2 separate regions of the Homo sapiens genome follow, and region 2 is linked to region 1. Evidence: fine-mapped expression QTL. A gene starts in region 1. The other region holds a variant in brackets. All regions are shown on one strand. Distances are between the middles of the regions.

Region 1 (2,911 bases):
AATAAAGAAAACCCTTTAGAATGTGTCTCTGAACTAGAATTAGAATCCTTAAACAACAACTTCCTAGGAGAAAAACCAGCTCACACTAAACGAAGGACTGTCAACCAAAGGGCGATCTGGGGCTCAGGAGAACTTAACCAGTTCCATCGGGGGAGAAGCTAGAAGTCTGGGAGGCTTCAATGGGCCCCACTGGTATCTTCGCTCCGAGTTCAGGCAACTCCTTTGGGGTCCTGAGTCTTCTCTGAGGCCCCACGCTGGGTGCCAAATTATTGTGGAAGAGTCAAACTCTGTAAAATATTTGAAGAGATTTATTGTGAGCCAAATATGAGTGACCACAGCCAGTGACACAGCCTTCAGGAGGTCTTGAGAACATGTGCCCAAGGAGGTCGGGGTGCAGCTTGGTTTAATACATTCTGAGGAGGCATGAGACTTCAAGTTAAGTTCATTTAAGAAATAAATTTGTTTGATCCAGAAAGGCAGGAAAACTCAAAGAGGGGGAGGGTGGTTCTAGGGTATAGGTCAACTTAAACATTTTCTGGTTGACAATTGGTTGAGTTTGTCCAAAGACCTGGGATTAAAGAAAGGAATGTCTGGGTTAAGAGGTTGTGGAGACCAATGTGTTTTATCACGCAGATGAAGTATTCGGATAGGGTAGCAGGCTTCAGAGAGAAGAGGCTGTAAAATGTTTCTTATCAGACTTAAAGTCTGTGTTGATGTTAATGCAGGAGAGGGATAATGAGGCATGTTCGGCCTCCACTTCCCCTTATGGCCTGAACCAGTTTTTCAGGTTAAATTCTAAAAGTCCTGGCTGAGGAAGAAGTCCATTCGGATGATTTGGTGGTTGGGAACGGGGAGGTGCCTTATCATTTATTTTTTGGTTTAAAATATAATGATATATTTTACCAAGTCTTGTGAACCATCAGGCCTCCCTCAGGCCCGGACTGGGAATTGCCAATTTCGTTAGGTGTGACCGTAATACTATGAGAATGTTTAAAAAAATAGGCCTTACTGATTAAACATACTCGAGTATTTAAAGGAGAATTTATCCACTGGGATGCTTTAAAATTACTCTGGGAAAAAAGGGAAAACGAAAGGCATGTGTGGGGTGAAGCACAGACTTGTCGTTGTTGTTTTTAAAGCAAAAGGCGGGTCCCAAGGGAAGTTGGCTGTCGGTGGGTTCCCGTTCTCCGTACCTTTCTACCTTGACAGCTCCATAATAAAACCTGCAGCCGCATAGGCGCCTCTCCCGTAGCGCTCCCGCGGGGGCGCCAGTGGGGCCCCAGCTGCGAGGAGGGCCCGGGCTCGCGAGACTCGGTCCCCCACTTCCGTCCCCGCGATCCCCGGCTCCCAGCCCCCCGGGCCCCCGGCGGGGCTCTGCGCTGCCGGAGCTTGGGCGTCTGCTGCTGTCCCGGAGCGCCAAGTCGTCCGAGGTCCGGCCGCCCGGCCGGGGCGGGGCCAGGGAGGCCCGGCCTTCCCGCTTCCTGCCTGAGCCGCAGGCCCGCCCCTGCGTCCTCCGCCCGCCTCTTTCCCGCCGCCGCCTGGGAGGGGACCCGGTAAGCGCGGCCCTGTTCCGGGCGGGGTTGGGGCGGAAGGTGGGGTCAGCTGGGGCCCAAGGGGGGTCGGGGAGGCGCGCGGGAGAGGGCGCCCGGGAGTGGGTGCGCGGGAGGCGAGTGAGCCGGGCGCCGGGCCCTGGGGGCTCGGCGGGAGGGGGAGTCAGGTGGGGACCGGGATTTGGGGGACTCGGTGGGGGAAAGGCGCGCGGGAGATGAGGTAAACACGAGGGGTCGGAGGGGCGGCCTGGGGCGGGGTGGGGCCATGCCTGGGGTAGGCCACGCCTCGGGGAGGCCGGGAGAGAACCCAGGCGCTGGGGGTCGCGGGGGAGCCGGCCGGTCCTACCCTTAGGTGTCTGAGGCCGCTCCCCACACCGCTGCGGTGTGCATTCAGCGGCCCTGTCTCCTCCTTCCTGGCCTGCTCAGGGCACGGCTCCTGGTTGGATGTCACACGCGTGACTCCTGCAGCGCCCGCGCGCAGGGACCCCTCGCTGCCTCAGCCAGACCTCCCGCCAGCCTCTACCACAGGCTCAGCCCACTGTCCTGGGTGGGCTCGGTGCAAACCTCTGGTGAAGAAAACCTCCTGGGGGTGCCCAGCCGGGAGTCTGTCTCAGAGTCCCACACTCTCTCCATCCAGGAGAGCCGGTGGGATAGGTCTCTTTAAAATCCCGTTATTTATTTGTTTATTTTTTCCTCTTTCTTCCAGTTTTTTCCATATGACTTTAGTGATCAAATCCCACTTTTTTTTAGAAGGCTTTTTTTACACCAGTGGTTTTCAAACTGTGGTCCCAGGACCAGCAGCACTGCCTTTCCTGAGATCTGCTAGAAATGCGGGTTCCCCAGCCCCACCCTGACCTTCTAAATCCTAAACCTTGGGGGTGGGTCCCCATACTTGTCTTTAGCAGGTCCTCCTCGTGGTTCTGACCATTGATCTGAAACCTTAGGGCTTTGAGGAGTCTGAACTGGGGTTGAGGATGGGCCAGGTGCCCTGTGATGATAATGCATGACTCCATTTAATCTTCACAGCCCTACACAGTAGGTAGTATTACCCCATTTCACAGATTAGGCAACAGAGGTACAGAAAGTTTAATTTTTCCAAGGTCACAGACCTAGAAAGGGGAGGAGCTGGGATTCCAACCTTGGGTTCCGGCTCCAGAACATTCCCACTGAGGCGAGGTCCCCTGTGAAGGTGGGGAGGGGTGAAGCCCAGAGGTCCTGGCGGCCTCCCTGCCAGGCAGAAACCATTAGTTCCAGAATCACGACCAGCCAGGTGCGTGGTCAGCAGTGGCCCTGCCTGCCTGCCTTTGGGCGAGCCCTGGTCTGTGTGAGCTGCTGGGTCCAGGTCCCCGGGCAGGATGTGT
Region 2 (2,911 bases), 72 kb after region 1:
ATCTTGGTTCAGTGCAATCTCTGACTCCTGGGTTCAAGTGATTCTCCTGCCTCAGCCTCCTGAGTAGCTGGGATTACAGGTGTGCACCACCATGCCCAGCTAATTTTTTTTGTATTTTTAGTAGAGACAGAGTTTCACCATGTTGGTCAGGCTGGTCTCGAACTCCAGACCTCAAATGATCCACCCACCTCAGCCTCCAAAAGTGCTAGGATTACAGGCATGAGCCACCATGCCTGGCCCCCTCTCATTCTTATCCACTGTCTTCATTCCTCCTCTCTCCTTCCCACCTTGAGTGAAAAAAAAAAAATCACTTTCATTTTCTCAGATATTCCAGGCTGTAGTCTGTTTCCTGTCAATGCCTGTGGCCTTGAGGTCTGACTTATCCAGACTGCCTTATCACACTATTCTCAGACCTTTCTATCCACTCTCCCCTCATCCTTACTTTGTCCCTGGATCCCCTCCCTCCCATCCTCGCTCCAGCCAACAAATACTTATTGAGAACCTACTTTACAGCCGCACTCCCCTCACCTTAAGAGATGCCAGCAGTCAAGGTGATGCAGTTACTCCCTGGATACCTCACTCACAAGCTCTGGGCCACCCTGACTTGCTGCCAAACAAGATCTGTGGTCAAGTGGGAGGAAAGGAAAAGATAATGAAATACTGAATTAACCAAAGAAGACTTCCTGGAGGAAGGGAACTTAAAATAAGGGATACAACTTAGAGACTGGCGTAAAGAAAGGGAAAACAGATTCCTTTTCTCCTCGTAGGTGTTGGTGGCAATCTGGTGGCCATTCAGACCAGCCGAATCTCAACCTACCTGCACATGTGGAGTGCACCTGGCGTCCTGCCCCTCCAGATGAAGAAATTCTGGCCCAACCCGTGTTCTACTTTCTGCACGTCAGGTGGGTGTCATGTCTTTCAGAGGCCATGATAGCCATTTCTTTAAACAAGAAAACATCGGTGTCATTGGAATCTGGTGTTTGTAGCAATGGATGCCTGAAGCCAGGGCTGATCTCGGCACACATCACCTTCAGGGCCCCAGAAATGAGACTCCCCGGCCCTGCCTTTCCTTCATTCCTTCATTCAATTATTTATTGAATGTCCACTGGGCACTAGGTGTTAGGTTAGTGGTGAAACAGGGAGAGCTGATTTCTTGCCCTTGAAGTACACAGTATAGAAGGGCAGATAAACACAAGTGGGCTCGTAATTAAAAATTATGTTGGGTACCGAGCAGCAAAAGTGCAGAGTGCAGTGAAAAAGAATTAGAGGAAATACACTTGGGATAAGGAAGCTCCTCCCTGAGGACAAGTGGGTGTTGTTGGGAGGAGGAGGGCAAGAGAAGAAGGGGCTTTCAGGGCAGTGGGTGCAGTCTAGCAAAGGCCCAGAGGCAGGAAGGAGTGTGGCAAGTCTGAAGAACTGAAAGGCCAATGTGGCCTGAGCTGAATGGACAGGAGGGGATGAAGGAGGCTGAGGCCAGAGAGGCCGGAAGGAGGTGATCCGACAGAGCCTTGGAGTTGAGGAAGGAACCTGGATTCTACTCAGAACCACTGGAAGCTTTTGGAGATGTTGTGTCTTTTTGTTGGCTTTGAAAAATCAGATCTTCTTTCCTGTTA[C/AC]ATTGTTTTGGATTTCCTTTCTAAGAACTACCTTTAGCCTTCTTTTGGGTTGGCTGTTGGCACATTTCTGAAGGATATTTTCACTGGTTGTAAAATTCGGTGTCAATAGTTGTTTTCAAACACTTGAAAAATGTGCCACTTCCTTCTGATTCCATGACTTATGATGAGAAATCTGCCATTTCAATTTATTTTGCTGTATAGGTATGGTGCCATTTCTCTCTTGCATATTTCAAGACCTTGTCTTTAGTTTCTAGGAGTTGGATTATGATATGTATTGGTATGGACTTTTTGGGGTTTATCCTATTTGGGGTTTGTTAGGCTCCTTGAACACATGGATTTATATCTTTTGTCAAATCGGAAAATTTAAGCCATCACTTTTTCAGCTGCACTCTCCTTCTTTTTGATATTCTAATGACATGAATGTTAGATCCTCTGTTACAGCCCCACAAGTCCCTGAGACTCTGTTTGGTTTTTGCAAAGTCTATTACTCTCCTTGTTTAGATTGGCTCATTTCTATCACTTTTTTCTCCAAGTTGACTGATCTTTTTTCCCCTGCCCTCTCCATTCTGCTATTGAGCCTATTCACTGAGTTGTCTGGGACTTTTGGGGGTATTGTATGTGTTTAGTTTTAACATTTCCATTTGGTTCTTCTTTCTTTCTATCTTCTTTTTCTTTTCTGAGACTTTCTATTTCTTTGCTTATACTTTCTATTTTTTTGTTTGTTTCAGGTGGGTTTGTGATTGCATGATGAAGGATTGTTGTAGTGGCTTCATTAGAACGGCTTTCAGGTGATGCTGACGTCTGTGTCGTCTCACTCTGCTGTCTGTTGGTTGTCTTTTCTCATCCAGGTTGAGATTTTTCTTGCTCTTGGTAAGATGAGTGATTTTCATTTGAATCCAGACATTTTGGGTATTATGGACAAGACTTTGGATCATGTTTGAATCTCTACTTAGCTGGCTTCCTTTGACACTGCACCACTGGGGAGAAGGGATGGACTGCTGCCCAGGTGGGGATGGAAGACTGGGTTCACCATTCAGCCTCTATTGCTATCCTGGGAGAAGAGGAGCACCTTGTTATTGCTGGGCACAGTGCAATCTAGGTTCCTCACTAGGCCTCCTCTGAGACCACCTTGGCTGGGACAGGGAAAGATGCCTTGTTGTTGCTCCCCACATGGCTTCACTGACAAGGTGGGGGCCCCATTAGCACTGGGTAGAGATGAAAGTTCTGAATCTCACCCTGCCAGCCACAGGAGATGATGGTGGTCCCACCAGGCCTTTCCTGATGAGGTCGGGGCTGCA

What was found.
Region 2: its variant is fine-mapped to the expression of SLC41A3 in whole blood (TOPMed, PIP 0.97).

What each region holds. Positions count from the first base shown.
Region 1 is chr3:126,082,735-126,085,645 of GRCh38, reverse strand. It overlaps SLC41A3 (solute carrier family 41 member 3), which reads left to right and starts at 1,522. Exons shown (of 11, transcript NM_017836.4): 1 at 1,522-1,553. It overlaps ALDH1L1-AS1 (ALDH1L1 antisense RNA 1), which reads right to left and starts at 1,431. Exons shown (of 8, transcript NR_190231.1): 1 at 1,194-1,431. RefSeq lists silencers at 1,175-1,724, 1,765-1,874.
Region 2 is chr3:126,010,606-126,013,516 of GRCh38, reverse strand. SLC41A3 (solute carrier family 41 member 3) reads left to right here. Exons shown (of 11, transcript NM_017836.4): 9 at 768-902. Among named protein-coding and RNA genes, the nearest start is that of ROPN1B, 43 kb to the right of the region's middle. The variant C/AC (reference allele first, on the strand shown) is at 1,614.